Regions from separate parts of the Homo sapiens genome. Here region 2 is linked to region 1. The links come from fine-mapping of genetic effects on gene expression. A gene starts in region 1. The other region holds a variant in brackets. All regions are shown on one strand. Distances are from middle to middle. Region 1 holds the start of SYTL3 (synaptotagmin like 3). Region 2 overlaps SYTL3 (synaptotagmin like 3).

Evidence for each region. PIP is the estimated chance that this variant, and not a neighbour inherited with it, causes the effect.
Region 2: its variant is fine-mapped to the expression of SYTL3 in whole blood (INTERVAL, PIP above 0.99).

The regions. Positions count from the first base shown.
Region 1 is chr6:158,645,153-158,653,485 of GRCh38, forward strand. SYTL3 (synaptotagmin like 3) reads left to right here and starts at 4,902. Exons shown (of 18, transcript NM_001242394.2): 1 at 4,902-4,926; 2 at 6,601-6,690.
Region 2 is chr6:158,712,010-158,720,342 of GRCh38, forward strand. SYTL3 (synaptotagmin like 3) reads left to right here. Exons shown (of 18, transcript NM_001242394.2): 9 at 1,791-1,869; 10 at 6,078-6,202. Among named protein-coding and RNA genes, the nearest start is that of MIR3918, 49 kb to the right of the region's middle. RefSeq lists enhancers at 4,071-4,160, 8,053-8,333. The variant G/A (reference allele first, on the strand shown) is at 4,765.

The DNA.
Region 1 (8,333 bases):
TGTTGCAGTTCCCTTGGGGACTGGGATTGGCATGCTTTAGCTATCTGAACGAAACTTCCCTTTGGGGAGTTAAGTTTTCCAGGTAAATGAGAATTTTTCCTTTAAGCACCATTAAAAAAAAACATTTTGGGTGGAAAATTTTGTAAAATGTGGCACACTTCCTGACTACCTTAACCATAGTGAACTAGACAGACTTTATTTGTATGTGGGTTCTTTATGGAAATTAGGAATTGCACTGGGCTCTGGTAAACTGCCCTCCACGGAAAGCTGGGGCATATGCATCTATTGGCAGGTATTCTGAGGCTCCGAGTTTTGATTTTGGCGTTTGCTTTTTCTGGTTTCGTCATGCACTTGAATTCAGGTTGCTGGAACCCACTTCCCATTCCCCAAGAAAGAGCTGACTGCAAGGGTCCCAGGGATTTGGTAGACCTAAACTTCAAATCCCACATCTAATCCATCAACAACCCTTGTTATTTCTACCCCATATGCTCGGGACCCCAGTTAAAGATTGATATCTCTCATCTGGATTATGACCATCGGACTGTAACCTGGTCGGTCTATCAGGGTCTTATTAGAGCCCTTCAAGAGGAACCTAACCCAACGACTCCTCCCTCCCCTCACCCATTCTGCCCTGCCATAAGTCAATAGTTACTAAGTTGTCAGACTATAGACTAATCTTAGTGATCTTTGGATGACTAAACTTTTAACATATCTTAGCTCAAAATCTCCTACAGAGAGCCATTCTGTGACCACGGCATCTAAGGTAGCCGACCTCCTCATCCTCCACCCCTGCATCCTGTACATTTTCCTCATAGCACTTCTCTCAGTTTGCAAGAACGTATTTATGGTTGCTTGTTGATGGTGTGTCTCCATTTAGAAACTAAGTACCATGCAGGAAGGATCTGTTTTATTCACTAATGTATCCCCTTCCTTCCACATTGTGCCTGGCACATAATAGCTACACAATTAACATTTATTTATTTATTTATTTAGAGACAGGGTGTCATTCTGTTGCCCGGGCTGGAATGCAGTGGTGTGATCGGAGATTTTGAGCTAAGATGTGTTGAAGTTTAGTCATCCAAAGACCACTAAGAGCTTGAACTCCTGGGCTCAAGGTATTCTCCTGCCTTAGCCTCCTGAGCAGCTGGGATTCCAGGCACTAGCCACCACACCCACCTATTTTTTTAATATGTCTTTTGTAGAGATGGGATCTCACTGTGTTGCCCAGGCAGGTCTCAAACTCCCGGGCTTAAGGGATCCTCCAGCCTCAGCCTCCCAAAGTGCTGGGATTATAGCTGTGAGCCACCATGCCCGGCCTAAAATTTATTGCATGAATCATTTCCCTCATGGGTGTTAGCTTTGCCTCAGACCCAAATGGAGAGAACTGGGGAGTGGAGGAAGATGCAACTACCTGCCTCCTTGAGGGAAACAGGGCTGGCGAGAGGAGGGCAGAGCCCTGACTGACACAAGGCTGCTTGGCCCTGGGTGTTCGGCCTGAGCGAGGAGACTTGCTGGGCAGGCTGGTTGCTTTACCACACCTGGTCTTCCTCTCCTTGGATTCTGAACTTTATCTACCTTTTGAATTCCTTTCTTATTACCTGGCTTCAACTCCCCTGTCCTGGTGTTTCAGTCGTGCGCCTCAGTCCACATGTGATTCTGATGCTGACATTGCTTTGCCTGCCTGCCCTTCTCAGTATCACCTGAGATCTCGTTTTGGATGTTCTCTGCCTACCTGGTTCCAAGCTCTTGGCCCCACCACGATCCTGAGCCAATCAGGAGCCTCTGAAATCTTTTTTCTTCTGCTACTTTGTTGTGGACCTGGAGTTCAGTAGCTAAGTGTCACAGAATTATGTGCAAAGCAAGAGTAAACCGGTTCTGAGCAAACACCTGCAATGGAAGAACATGACACTTGGGACAGCCTTTTCAATTTTCCCCACAACCTTTTAGGAACTTCCTAATTTAAATCAATTTCCTGAATGTCTGCTAGGATGGTGCATAATTAATGCATGGATCTTGTTATAACTGCGGATCACCAGCATGCACATAAATCAACAGAAAACATGCAAATGTGCATTTTAAAAATGCTTACATGATTTTAGCTTTTATACATTGGGTACCACTCTCCAATTTTAACTATTAAAGAACATTTGTTAAATGATCGCGATGTATGACATTTTGAGGCTGCCAGTAAACGGATGAGCTGGTCTGTTTATCTTCACAACTATCTGTTCACTTGTTCAATACACATATATGGAGCACTCCCTTTGTGTCAGGCTCTGAGCTGGGGGTTGAGGCTACAAAGTTGACTAAAACATGGCCTTTATGGAATTTTTTCTTTTAAACGGATATATCTGTAAATAGGAGGGTTTGAATTCTCTAGGCTTATGTGATGTTGTAGTGCTTGGAAAAATGCAGTGATGTGGTATTATATTCTGCCCAACTGATGTAGTCTGTAGGGCTAAGGAATTTAAAATCGTTAAGACATTTGGCAGTTCACCAGATGCCATTTCCAGCACCTTCCATCTGCCACGAATGGATGTCCATCAGAAGCATTGGAGCTCAGACACCTTTACTCGTAACTGCTCATGAATCTTTGGCATTCTGCCATATTTTAGAATAATGTTTAGTTTCTATGCAGTAAGTCAGTGGAGTGAATCTTAGGTTTGTTTTTCAATTTGGAGGTTAGTGATAGGTTGGCAGGTTTGCGTGCAATCACCTTTCTTTTCTGGAGTCAAATTTCTTGAATACAGACTGTGGGACTGGAGCTGCCAATACCTTTATTTAGCAAGTGTGGGCCTAATAATCATAGCAATCAATGAACTGTCACATCAATAAATAACATCAATAATATCCAGCAGTGGCTGGGCGCAGTGGCTCACACCTGTAATCCCAGTACTTTGGGAGGCTGAGGTGGGCAGATCACCAGAGGTCGGGAGTTCGAGACTAGCCTGACCAACATGGAGAAACCCTATCTCTACTAAAAATACAAAATTAGCCAGGCATGGTGGTGCATGCTTGTAATCCCAGCTACTTGGGAGGCTGAGGCAGGAGAATCGCTTGAACCCAGGAGGCAGAGATTGCGGTGAGCTGAGATAGCGCCATTGCACTCCAGCCCGGGTAACAAGAGCGAAACTCCGTCTCAAAAAATAAAATAATAGGCCAGGCGTGGTGGCTCACGCCTGTAATCCCAGCACTTTGGGAGGCCGAGGCGGGCGGATCACGAGGTCAGGAGATCGAGACCATCCTGGCTAACACGGTGAAACCCTGTATCTACTAAAAATACAAAAAATTAGCTGGGTGCGGTGGTGGGCGCCTGTAGTCCCAGCTACTCGGGAGGCTGAGGCAGGAGAATAGCGTGAACCCGGGAGGCGGAGCTTGCAGTGAGCCGAGATCGCGCCACTGCAGTCCCGACTGGGTGAAAGAGCGAGACTCGGTCTCAAAAAAAAAAAAAAAAAAATAATAATAATAATAATATCCAGCAGTGTTGTTCTGCTATAATCTGCAGCCCTTCATAGTCCAAATGCCATCCTGTGGATTTTCCATTTTTTCCTTTCTTCCCCTGTGCCAAGAAGTGTGTTACTATGAGATCATGCTGAGTCAAAATAATAGTAACAGAAGAAGACGATGAGGACGAGGGTGCTGTTGAAACACTCATGGCTGAGGAATTTAATGTTGTAAAGGAAAAGAAACTCTGGCTGACACATATCTAAAGTGAGAGTCCTGTGCTGAGAAAAGCTAAAGAGATTAGCTAAGAAGTGCCTATATTTAGATCTGCTATTGAGCTGGGAAGCGGAGGCACAGTTGTGCTGAAATACCTCTGTACCCCATGAAACAGTGGCTGCTCTGAGCTTCTTGGGTCCCTCTTCCTCTCAATCCTGGTGACTGCAGCCCCTTCCCTGGGACCTCATCCCCAAGATCCAATAACTAAAGGATAACTCGTGGTATAGCAGGGCCTCCGCTGGCATTTGTTCCAATGGGTAAATATTCATGCTATAGTAGTTATTAAATAGTTTGGTGCTCAGTTCTGTGTTTGTGAAAACACTACACACTACATCAGCAGAATAGGCTAGGTTAGCTGCAGAAACAAATGGCCCTACACTCTCAGTGGTTGATGACAGCAAACATTTATTTGCCACTCACACTCCATGACCATCAAGGATCTTCCATGGCTCTGCTTCATGTCTTCTCCATGCTGAGACGAGGTTGCTGGAGCAGCCTGTGTCTGGAGTCATCAAGGGAAAGAGAAGGGAAAGAGAATGAATGGTGGCCCCAGTACTGGCTCGGTAGGTGCCAAGCCTACGTGGCACGTGGCACCTTTGCACACACTTCATTGTCTTATTGCTCTCCAGAGCAAGTCCTTGGCCATGCCTGAGTTAGCAGGGCAGGGACACTTCACGGTGCTGAGTAATACTACCTAGTACACGCACAGCATTTTGAAGGTTCCCCTTGGTGATTTCATTACAATCTTCATCGCTCTTGGCCTGGCTGTCCCCCTTTCTTGTAAATTATTCTTGAGTTAATAGCTGTTCTTTGAGATGTGGTTAGTCATTTACACTGAAGTCAATGTGAAACCCTTCACAAATGTGAGAACATTTGAATATTTGAAGGCTGTAGTCTCTGTAGGGAGTTTCCTTAGGAAGGGTGAAACATTTCACCAGCATCAGCCTGGTCTTTCCTCCAGCTAAAAATGTAAAATGTTGGCATAGAAGAGCTCCTTGATGTGGTTTTGGGGTGGCTTTGCTCCCTGGGTCCCTAGTGATGTGGGAGTAGCCACCGAGGCATGTAAGGCTGGCCACACAGGGTGCACTGCGTCAGCCTGTGCCCGACAGGAAGGGAAGAGAAATACGTCAGTTACTCTAACAAGAAGAATTGACTTCCTTCTCTGCAGAGCCGGCTCTGGTCTCTTCTCTTGAAGCAGATGCGAAGGTAGGATGAGAAGGCATGGCTGGCCGTTGCAGCAGGTCGTTTTAGGAGTGGGGGAGTGGGGTGGGTAGAGATTATAGTTATTGTAACTTTTCTTAAATTTATGACATTGAAAAGGTAGGAAACAAAACATAATAAATTAGATAAAAGATATCTTGTAATTTTATTGAATAACATACATTTAACATTTGAGATAATAATGATTTAAGTGATATGGTGGAAGTGACTTCAGAGTTAATTAAAAACCAAAACAAAACAGAAAAACACTATCCAAAAGCTATATGGTGTGATTTTTTTTTTTAAAGGGTAGAGTGTCATTTGCTTTCTTCTTTGGTTTGCAAATTCTTATACTTACAGTTTATTACTATTTTGCTCTCTCTGAATCGACTTTATTGTTTTGATCATCCGTAATTTCTCGTTTGGAGGTGGAACATAAATATCATTTTGGAATTATAAAAAAGTTAGCTAGGGTCTAATTTAAATTTCTTTTAATTAAGCTTCCTTAATCTCTAAATTGCTTGGTAAGAAAGAGACTATGAGAGGAAAGTGCACATTAGATATTAAAGATTTATTAAATTAGAATTGGGCTGGGTGCGGTGGCTCACGCCTGTAATCCCAGTACTTTGGGAGGCCAAGGTGGGTAGATCCCTTGAGATCAGGAATTTGAGACCAGCCTGGCCAACATGATGAAACCCCATCTCTAAAAAAAAAAAAAAAATACAAAAATTAGCTGGGTGTGGTGGCAGGCACCTGTAATCCCAGCTGCCCAGGAGGCTGAGGCACGAGAATCACTTGAACCTGGGAGGCGGAGGTGGCAGTGAGCCAAGATCCTGCCACTGCAATCCAGCCTGGGCAACAGAGTAAGACTCCGTCTCAAAAAAAGAAAAAAAGAAATTAGAATTGGTGTAGAAAAGATTATTTAGCCAAGATAGTTGGAGATTCTAACTTAGCTGCTTTGCCTAAATGAAGCATAAGGTTTTGGAGTTAAACAGACCCAGTTTAGAGTGTGAGTTTAGGTAAGTTACTTAATCACTCCAAGACTCACTCTCCTCATCTGTAGAATGGGTACATTTACTTCATAATGTGGCAATAAGGATTAGTAGAGATAATGTATGCAAAGTACTTAAACTATCTGGTTCAGAGTAAGAGCTAAATAAATAGTAGCTGTTGGCACAACAGAAAGCATAACAACAATTGTGAGTAGTACCTAGAAGGATATAATAATATTAATTCTCGGCCGGGTGTGATGGCTCACGCCTGTCATCTCAGCACTTTGGGAGGCCTAGGCGGATGGATCATGAGGTCAAGAGATCGAGATCATCCTGGCCAACATGGTGAAACTCTACTAAAAAATACAAAAAAATTAGCTGGGTGTGGTGGCGGGCGCCTGTAGTCCCAGCTACTCAGGAGGCTGAGGCAGGGGAATTGCTTGAACCCGGGAGGTGGAGGTTGCAGTGAGCTGAGATCGCGCCACTGCACTCCAGCCTGGTGACAGAGCGAGACTCCATCTCAAATAAATAAATAAATAAATAAATAATAATATTAATTCTCATTTCTTTGCTCTTCCATACAAAGAGGTCAAGTTTAAAGTATGAATGCCATGGCTTCCTATTTCAGTCATGAATTCCTATTTCTGATTCTAAAGTAATATTTTTTGTTGTTTTTGGGTGGTAAAAGGCTCCCCGAATGAGAAAGAATACTCGGAATCAGCGGTGAATTGCAGTGATCTTTCAGAGAAAGCGCCTGTTCAACTTTGTCCTCTCTCAGGTAGGCTTCAAGTTTTATAGATTCAAGCCCACGTGTGAGTCTTCTAATGTTTTATTTATTTATTTATTTATTTTTATGTATTTTTATTTTTTTTTATTTATTTGAGATGGAGTCTCACTCTGTTGCCCAGGCTGGAGTGCAATGGCACGATCTCGGTTCACTGCAACCCCTGCCTCCCAGGTTCAAGTGATTCTCCTGCCTCAGCCTCCCCGGTAGCTAGGATTACAGGTGCCTGCCACCATGCCCAGATAATTTTTGTATTTTTAGTATAGATGAGGTTTCACCAGGTTGGCTAGGCTGGTCTCAAACTCCTGACCTCAGGTGATCCACCCACCTCGGCCTCCCAAAGTGTTGGGATTACAGGTGTGAGCCACCGAGCCCAGCCTGTTTATTTATTTACTTATTTTATTATTATTATTTTTTGAGACAGAGTCTCACTCTGTTGCCCAGGCTAGAGTGCAGTGGCTGCAATTTCAGCTCACTGCAAGCTCTGCCTCCCGGGTTAACACCATTCTCCTGCCTCAGCCTCCGAAGTAGCTGGGACTATAGGCACCTGCCGCCACACCTGGCTAATTTTTTTGTATTTTTAGTGGAGACAGGGTTTTAACATGTTGGCCAGGATGGTCTCCATCTCCTGACTTCATGATCCACCTGCCTCGTCCTCCCAAAGTGCTGGGATTACAAGCGTGAGCCACCACGCCCGGCCTTATTTATTTTTTTGAGACAGAGTCTCGCTCTGTCACCCAGGCTGGAGTGCAATGGCGCGATCTCAGCTCACTGCAACCTCCACCTCCCAGGTTCAAACAATTCTGTCTCAGCTTCCCGAGTAGCTGGGATTACAGGTGCCCACCACCATGCCCGGCTAATTTTTGTATTTTTAGTAAAGACAGGGTTTCACCATGTTGGCCAGGCTGGTCTCAAAACTCCTGACCTCGTGATCCACCCACCTCAGCTTCCCAAAGTGCTGGGATTACAGGCGTGAGCCACCGCACCCAGCCGAGTCTTCTAATGTGAAGTAGAGATATCTGAGGGACCTGAAACTTGTACAACTTGTGGAGACTTTGGGAAAACAAAGAGGGAACCAGGTACAGGGCATCTAGGGCCTTGGACAGGGCCGTGCAAATAAAGGATTCTGAAGTTGAGGTGTCATTCGCTTCCCAGAAAACCCACCTCTGAATGAGTAACAAGATAGACAGAAAATGTATAAACGCACATCTTCATTTCTGTGTCAGACTTTCTGATGGATATGCATGCGTGCTGTCTCATTGTTGCAAAAATGAGTCTTTTAAGCCTATGAATAGGGAACTGAGCTGAGAGCTGTTCTTTATTCATCACCTTCCTTTGTGGCTGTAATCAGCTTCCGTAAAGAATCTATGCAAGCAGGCCGGTCGCAGTGGCTCACACCTGTAATCCCAGCACTTTGGGAGGCCACGGTGGGCAGATCACCTGAGGTTGGGAGTTTGAGACCAGCCTGACCAACATGAAGAAACCCTGTCTCTACTAAAAATACAAAATTAGCGGAGGATGGTGGTGCATGCCTGTAATGTCAGCTACTCGGGAGGTTGAGGCAGGAGAATTTCATGAACCTGGGAGGCGGAGGTTGTGGTGAGCCAAGATCGCGCCATTGCATTCCCGCCTGGGCA
Region 2 (8,333 bases), 67 kb after region 1:
TAGGTCTCGGCCTCATTTTACCCAGCTCCTATTCAAGATGGAGTTGCTGTGGTTCACATACCTCTGACAATGTAACTCTCAGTTCAAAGCTGAAAGCCTCAGGACCCAGGGAGCCTCTGGTCTAAGTCCTGGAGTCCAATGGCCAATCAGCCTGGGTTCTGATGTCCAAGGCAGCAGAAGAAAAGTCTGTTCCAGCTCTCAGAGACCAATTCATTTGCTGTATTTGTTCTCCTTGGGCCCCTGGTTGAGTGGGTGGTGCCTGCCAATATTGAGGGCAGATCTTTCTAACCGAATCCACTCAGACTCACACACTAATCTCCTCTGGAAACACCCTCACAGACACACCCAGAATAATGCCTTACCAGGCTTCTAGGTATTCCTGAAGCCAATCAAGTGGATGCCTACAATTAAGGTGTCATTAATTAAGTCCACGAGTCCACCCCTTGTCAACCTGTACCCATAGGCTCTCCTTAAGTCATACTTAATTTAATAAAGGCAGTAACAAAGTAATAGGTCCCCCTAACATGATGCAACTATCCCATAATTGTGATTTTGGGGATTTTAGATGTTAGGGATTTGGACTTCAGGGATTTTAATCTTTAGGGATTTAGACTTTAGGGATTTTGATCTTTCATCGTTTAGGATTATGGCATTTGAGACTGTGTCTTTGAGATTATGATCCAAACCCAAAAATATATAATGCTGATAAGAGAGAAGAATCACATACATTCTTTTTCTTTTCTTTCTTTCTTTTTTTTTTTTTTTTTGAGACAGAGTCTCGCTCTATTGCCCAGGCTGGAGACCAGTGGCGTGATCTCGACTCATTGCAAGCTCCGCCTCCCGGGTTCACACCATTCTCCTGCCTCAGCCTCCCAAGTAGCTGGGATTACAGGTGCCCGCCACCTTGCCCAGCTAATTTTTTTTTGTATTTTTAGTAGAGACGGGGTTTCACGTGTTAGCCAGGATGGTCTCGATCTCCTGACCTCGTGATCCGCCCGCCTCGGGCTCCCAAAGTGCTGGGATTACAGGCGTGAGCCACCGCGCCTGGCCTCTTTTTCAGTTTCAAACTGAGACTGGGGTGACCTTCAAAATCCTGCTCTACTTTCTCCTGGAAATTTCAAATTCTCCAGAGTCGTTCCAGTACCTACGTGCTCATGATGTATTTATTGGACAGATGGATGATTGGATGGGTGGTAATGTAAGATGGATGGATGTTTGGTGGCTAGATGGGTGGATGGATGGATGAATGAATGAGACTTGGATAAGGAAGTGAACTCCTTTCTGTTGTTTTATCTTTTTTTTCTTCTGCTTTGGGAAGTGGAGCCCCTCAGCTCTTGCCTGGTCACCTTGTGGCTTTTACCATCCTCATCCCCTGTGCCACCCACATCCTGCCACTTCTGCATGGAGTTGGGGTGGGGCCATTGGAGAAAAGAGGTTAAACAAGCAGTAATTTACTTGAGTACAGTCTTTGAGCCAATGAAATGCCAGTCATCATTTCCCAGGGGTACTTGTCATCTTGTCAACAACCCGCTGATAATGCTCCTTCAATGTGAATAGCAAAAGTAGGGAGAGACGCTGAATGAAGAAGATGCCTACCCCTCAGGAAGACTGCTGTCCGCCTCCAGGCCTGCATGCACACACCCATGCCCACCTGCACCCCCAGCACCACGCCCACACTCACTCGCACACACCCACATGCCAGTGTTTTGGGGTTGGCAGCCTGGACACTGCTGAGGCAAACACAAGTCATCAAGCATAATTCTCATTCTCTCCTTCTGTCTCTGTTTTAGTTACAGGAATTTGGTCAGTTTAGAGGATTTAATAAGTCCGTGGAAAATTTGTTTCTGTCTCTTGCTACCCACGTGAAAAGTAAGTGCATGCTTCATGATGTGTTTTCCCACTACCTTCCAGGCCAGCCGAGCCCACTGGCCAGGGCCTGGCCGGTGACCTCGGTTGACACTGTCCCTCAGGCCACTCACTTTGTCTCTGGACCCTGGGGAAAGCCACAGCACCTGGCCCTTCATCTCTTTCCCAACAAAGCAGGCCTCTGGTTCCTCATAGGAAGAGAAATGGTGGCTCAGACCTGTAATCCAAGCACTTTGGGAGGCCAAGGTGGGTGGATCACTTGAGGTCAGGAGTTCGAGACCATCTGGCCAACATGGTGAAACCCTGTCTCCACTAAAAATACAAAAATTAGCCAGGCATGGTGGTGGGTGCCTGTAATCCCAGCTACTGGGGAAGCTGAGGCAGGAGAATCACTTGAACCCAGGAGGCGGAGGTTGCAGTGAGCCAAGATCACGCCACTGGACTCCAGCCTGAGCAACAGAGCAAGACTCCGTCTCAAAAAAGAAAAAGAAAAAAAAAAAAAGATGCAATTTCAGGGAATCTAAAACCAGAACCTTTCAGGCCAGTAGGGCCCAATTATCTATCTATTGTCTGCATGGAATTACTTGCCTTTCTCCTCTCCTCCTTGGTAAATGTATTTTCTTCAGTTAGCAGTAATCCTGTGATTTGCAGATGCATGTAACCTAGAACCACCTCCACTTGCAATCTTGTGTCTTTCAATGTTCTTTCTGCTCAGATACTTTTTTCTCTGTTTATCTTAAAATTCAAGTCCCAGAGGACAGACTCCTTTTCATGCCTCCTAAGATGCCCAGGGCTGGTCAGGTGTTTAGAAAATGTCCTTAGTGTGCTCAAGGGTCCTTAGGCATGGATTTCTCTTTCACTGTGTTTCTGCTCGGCTTCTCTTCATCATCCCCTTTTCTGTAGTTGCATGCGGATGGTCTCAGTGCTGCACTTGGCTCTGAGACAGTCTCTTTATGTGACTTTAATTAGTTGTCCGTATTCCTCATGAGCCCTGTGTCAGCTGTCACACGATGACAATGGACATCAAAGCACTGCTCTTCAGATGAGCAGAAACAGTCGTCTCATGCAATGGTCTGTTCCTTTCTTAGGGAGGAAGCAGCTGAATTTCATGGGCCTGTTTGCTAAGAGCGTTTGGTGGCTTAAAAATCACTGTTTCCATCCTGCTGGGCTCTCTGACAGTAACCCCTGCTCTGTGCCCCTTGGCCTGGAACGTGTTTTCCAGCTGTCCCGGCTGCCTCTTCTCTTGTTCTCTTGTGGGTGCTATTTTCCCACCCACCCCCTTGTATTTGTCATGTATGGGTGGGTGCTAGTTCACCTTCCCTGTATGTCTTTCTAGGTGCACAGCCCTTCTCCAAATCTATGTGGCTTCTGTGAATTGTCTTCCACCACTGCCACTATAGAATCAGTGCCTTGGAGTTAGCCCCAACCCTGTCATCCCCCAGCCACCGAAATCCAGAGAGGTGGGACACACACGTCAGCACACATGCACCTTCCTGGATGCTCCCAGCCCTGCACACAGGTTCATTGGATATGCTCACAGCTGTCAGGTGGCCACCCCAGAGCCTGGCCTGTGTACCTGCTCACACACTTGAGCACTTGAGGCTAACCAGTGTAATACCCAGGTGGACAACTAGAGCTAGTCCCTGGGCGAGGTGTGGGGGAATTCACAAGAGCAAAACAGCAAGCATCCCTTCTCAGATATGGAAAGCAGACTGAAACCGCATCACACACACACACACACGCACGCACCCAGCACCCCCCATACCCCCCCACCACCCCCACCCCCTGCCCAGAGGCAGAGATAGAAAACCCCAGCTTTCTGGCTGCTGGGAGTGGTGCTTGGCCTCTGACCTTTCCCGAGTGCTTCCCCTGTTTCTGCAGGAACAGGACACGTGACCACACACACGCCCTTCTCCCGTCTCTGCCACAGGACACTTAGCGTCCTGTAGGCGCTGACTCCTATTTCTTTGGATTTTGAGCTCCTCTTCTCGTGCTCCTATTATCTTATTGGCTGCCTGTTTCCCCACGGAAGTGGGTGCAGAGGGAAGCCTCATTCTGAGGGGAGGAAGATTGGCACCTGAGGTCCTCGGGGAGGGACTGTAGAGGGCCCCAGACTCTTCACTGGCCCAGGTGCTGAAGGGTGGCTTTGCCCCTGAGGGGTTTTGAAAGGTGACCCAGAATTACAACCTCTAGCTGCTGATGCTGCCCAATGAAGTCAAACCAGCGGGAGGAAATGAGTGGCTGCAGCTCTGTCTATTATCAGTACGTTTCTAGAAGATGTCAGCACTGTAGTCCCCCTTAGAAAGGGGAAGAGGAAATGAGAAAACTGGTCTTGCCCAGAAGCAATCTGCATTTCTTTCTCTTCCTTATCCTTTGTCCCCTAATAATACTGACCTATAAGCCTATTTCTTAGAGCCCAAATTTCTCAAGAAGGCTTGTCCTCTCCCCTCATCTGTGAACTTTCAATGGCCCAAATAGGCCCAGGCTTTGGGATGGGCACTAAGAGATTGCTGGGGGACCAGTTCCTCCTAAGGGCTTAGAAATTAGAGCCCCTCACAGCCTCACAGTCCAGACTGAGATGGACCATCTGAGCGTGTCCTTTACTTTGTCCACTTTGAGGACCTGGTGCGTACTAGTGCCTTACGAGCTGCTGGCCTTAGAAAGATCCCCCAGTGTTTCTTGATGGTCACCTTGAGGACATGGGGATGGCATTGCTATCAGAGGAGGCTAGGAGGCATCCTGGTGGAAAAGCTGGACACCCCAGCCGTTCCCTCTTTAGATGAAAGAGATACTGCAAGACTCATTCTTGGGCAGTGTAGGCAGGAGAGAACGAATACATAGTGAGAGGATAGAGGATTCATGCAATAACATCCCAAGGAGGTGGATCCAAAGCCAGCC[G/A]GGGGGTCAAGAGCCACAGTGTCCATTGCAGTGGCCTCTAACCACGTGTTGCTCTTGAGCCCCTGAAATAGGGCTGCAAGATGCACTACCAAAGTGAACACACTGGGTTTCAGAGACTTGGAATCCAACAAAAGTAAAATATTTCATGGATAACTTTAATGTTGATGACATTTTTTAATATTTTGGATATATTGTGTTAAACTAAATATAGAATTAAAATTAATTTGGCCAGGCATGGTGGCTTAAGCCTGTAATCCCAGCACTTTGGGAGGCCAAGGTGGGTGGATCTCTTGAGCTCAGGAGTTCGAGACCAGCCTGGCCAACATGGTGAAACCATGGCTAATACAAAAATTAGCCGGGCGTGGTGACACACACCTGTAATCCCAGCTACTTGGGAGGCTGAGGCATGAGAATCACTTGAACCCAGGAGGCGGAGGTTGCAGTGAGCCAAGATCACATCATTGCACTCCATTCTGGGCAACAGAGTGAGACTCTATTTCAAAAATAAATAAGTAAATAGAGTTAATTTTACCTGTTTTTTTTTTTTTAACTTTTTAAATATGGCTACTATAAAATTTAAAATTGTATGTGTGACTTGCATTGTCTCTCTGCCGGACAGCACAGCTCTAGAGACAGTTTTAAGGTCCCCGTTTGGAGGAGTGGGGTTCTCAAGGGAAAATGAAACCATCTTCAGAGGATGAAACTATCTTCAAGGTGGTTCTCTCACTTCTGTATGTGGCTTCCTTCCTTCAAACTTTCTTCATCTTTACTCTAGACCACTATTACACTGTAAAAATGAAACAAATTTGTTTACAGTCATCTTTCCAGGGTTTGTTTATTATAATTGTTATGAGGACACCCCAAATCTTATTTTTACCTCGCTTCAAAAAGTCACAAGAAATGGTGTTAAGTTGTAACATCTTTGTAAGGAACCCCTAGAAAGCCGGCTTGTTTGGTAGGCTGCCGTCTTCGTGTTTGGATGAGTGCACACACATATGTGTGACCTGGAACGCAGAGGAGCTTGGGTGGATGATTTCCCTTCACCTCTCACCCTGACCATGGCCTGGGTGGCCACAGCGGGACCTTGAAGGAAGCCAGCCCTCTCCTGCCCTGACCCAGCACACTGTCTGCTCACCTTCCCAACACCTCTGCACTTGGTGGGGGAATGTGCCGCCCTTGCTCCTCCGTGCACTTTGCCCTCTTAAGACCTTGGGACCCACTGTCTGTGGGTTCAGTGAACCCCAGAAGAGGCTCCCACAAGTCTCAGCAAAGCTGCTTGTTCCCACCCATCAACCCTTGTGTTTGCCTTTTAGAGCTCTCCAAATCCCAGAATGATATGACTTCTGAGAAGCATCTTCTCGCCACGGGCCCCAGGCAGTGTGTGGGACAGACAGAGAGACGGAGCCAGTCTGACACTGCGGTCAACGTCACCACCAGGGTACCCTGAGCCCCACAAGGCCTCCACGCTGATCACCTTCATGTTGTCTTCCAGAACTTTCTAGCCTGCCTTCTCTGTAGATTTATGTTTTCTTTGGTTTTATAGAAAAACAGTAAGCCATCAGAAAAACATAATTACCAGTCAGTGCCTCTATTTGGGCAGGGCTGGCCCAAGGCAGGTCAGGATTGAAGGTCAGTCTGGAAAACTGTTCAGCACAAGGAAAGGCTTCCACCTAATCACAAGCCCCTGAGGCTCCTCTGTGTCCACAGAGCTCCCTGCTGGCTTCAAGCCTGCGCCAAAGCCCAAGGGCTTCCTGCAGGGCCCACACCTGCCGGGTTAGCCCTGGAGTCTGCAAGACCAGCAGCCTTTGGTTAAAATCTATCCTGACCTCTGATGGAAACTATTGAAAACGTAAAGGCGCGAGCAAGCCTGTGGGGGCGCTCTTCCCCCGCTGTCCACACCACAAGTGAGAGCTCCCTTAGTAAAGGCTTCTAGGGAAATAATTATTCCACCTTCCCACCAGGACTAACCCAGCCTGGAGTGAACGCTTCGGGTATGAGAGAGAGCCAACCTTAGAATGGGAAAGCCCGCATTCTAGTTCAGCTGAGGTGCCTTGGCTGGGCAGGTGCCACCAGCTGTTGCTTGCAGTGTTGATGTGACTGCCCTGGTAGGCTGGACAGAACTGGTGTCCCTTCTCTGCTGCTGTGGACTCCACTCAGGCTGTCCCCAGACAGACTGTCCTTTAGGCGAGGGTGTGAGGTCAGCCCCCCTCTCCTGCTGGAACTTGCACACAGCCTCTTGAGAGTTCACGTCCTGCCTCCCGCTCCAGCCCAGTGCGCCCCTCTGTAAAATGAAGATGATAATACCTGTTCTGCGCACAGCACAAGGTTTTGTAAACATCTAATGAGATAATGTAGTATCTTGATTTGCTATCTAAGTCATCTAAATATTTTATCTAAATTGCCAGCATTGACTATGATGTGCTGGACTCTGTACTAATAGCTTAACTAGGCTATCTCATTTTATCTTCATAACCACCATCTAGGGTAGGTATTGCATGCAGCCTCATTTTACATGTAAAGAAATGGAGGTTTAGATTAAGTCACCTGCCAAAGGTTGTATAGCCAAAAGAGGACTGAACTCTGAGGCAGTGATTCCCAGCTCTTATGAGTATAGGGGGTCACTGGGGCTCTTAAAATGCAGATTCCAAATCAGTAGCTGCGGGGTGGACGTGAGATGAGGAACCGCAGATGCATTTTTGGTGAACTCCTGGGATCTGGCGAAGTCTATGCTGTGAAGTTCTCAGACCACACTTCAGGAGCGAGGTGTCTAGACAGTTTGAAATGTATTTGGCAGGTGTTTGAAATTCTATAACACAAGTGTCAGCTCCTGTCAGCTTCCCGGGGTCTACAGAAGCTCCCTCCGAACTCCCTCCGGGGATCACTCCTTCTAGTGAAACAGGTGGAGGGGAGGGTTAGCAACCATATGAAGCCCTGTGTGCCACACGTGGTGGCAGCATTGCTTCTTACCTACTTCATCACATTTAATTCTCACAAAAATACCGTGGTAGACATTGTTACTCCCATGATAAAGATCGGCCGAGCCTGGTGGCTCATGCCGGTAATCCCAGCACTTTGGGAAGCCGAGGTGGGCAGATTGCTTGAGCCAAGGAGTTGGAGACCAGCCTGGGCAACATGAGAAAACCCTGTCTCTACAAAAATACAAATATTAGCCGGGTGTGGTGTCACATGTCTATAATCCCAGCTACTAGGGAGACTGAGGTGGGAGGATCGCTTGAGCCCAGGAGGTCAAGGCTGCAGTGAGCCATGGTTGCACCACTGCACTCCAGCCTGGGTGACAGAGTGAAACCCTGTCTCAAATAATAATAAATTAAAAATTTTAAAAATTGGCCGGGCACCATGGCTCATGCCTGTAATCCCAGCACTCTGGGAGGCTGAAGTGGGTGGATCACCTGAGTTCAGGCGTTCGAGAGCAGCCTAGCCAACATGGTAAAACCCCGTCTCTACTAAAAATACACAAATTAGCCAGGCTCATGGCGGGTGCCTGTAATCCCAACTACTCAGGAGGCCGAGGCAGGAGAATCTTTGCTTGAACCTAGGAGGCAGAGATT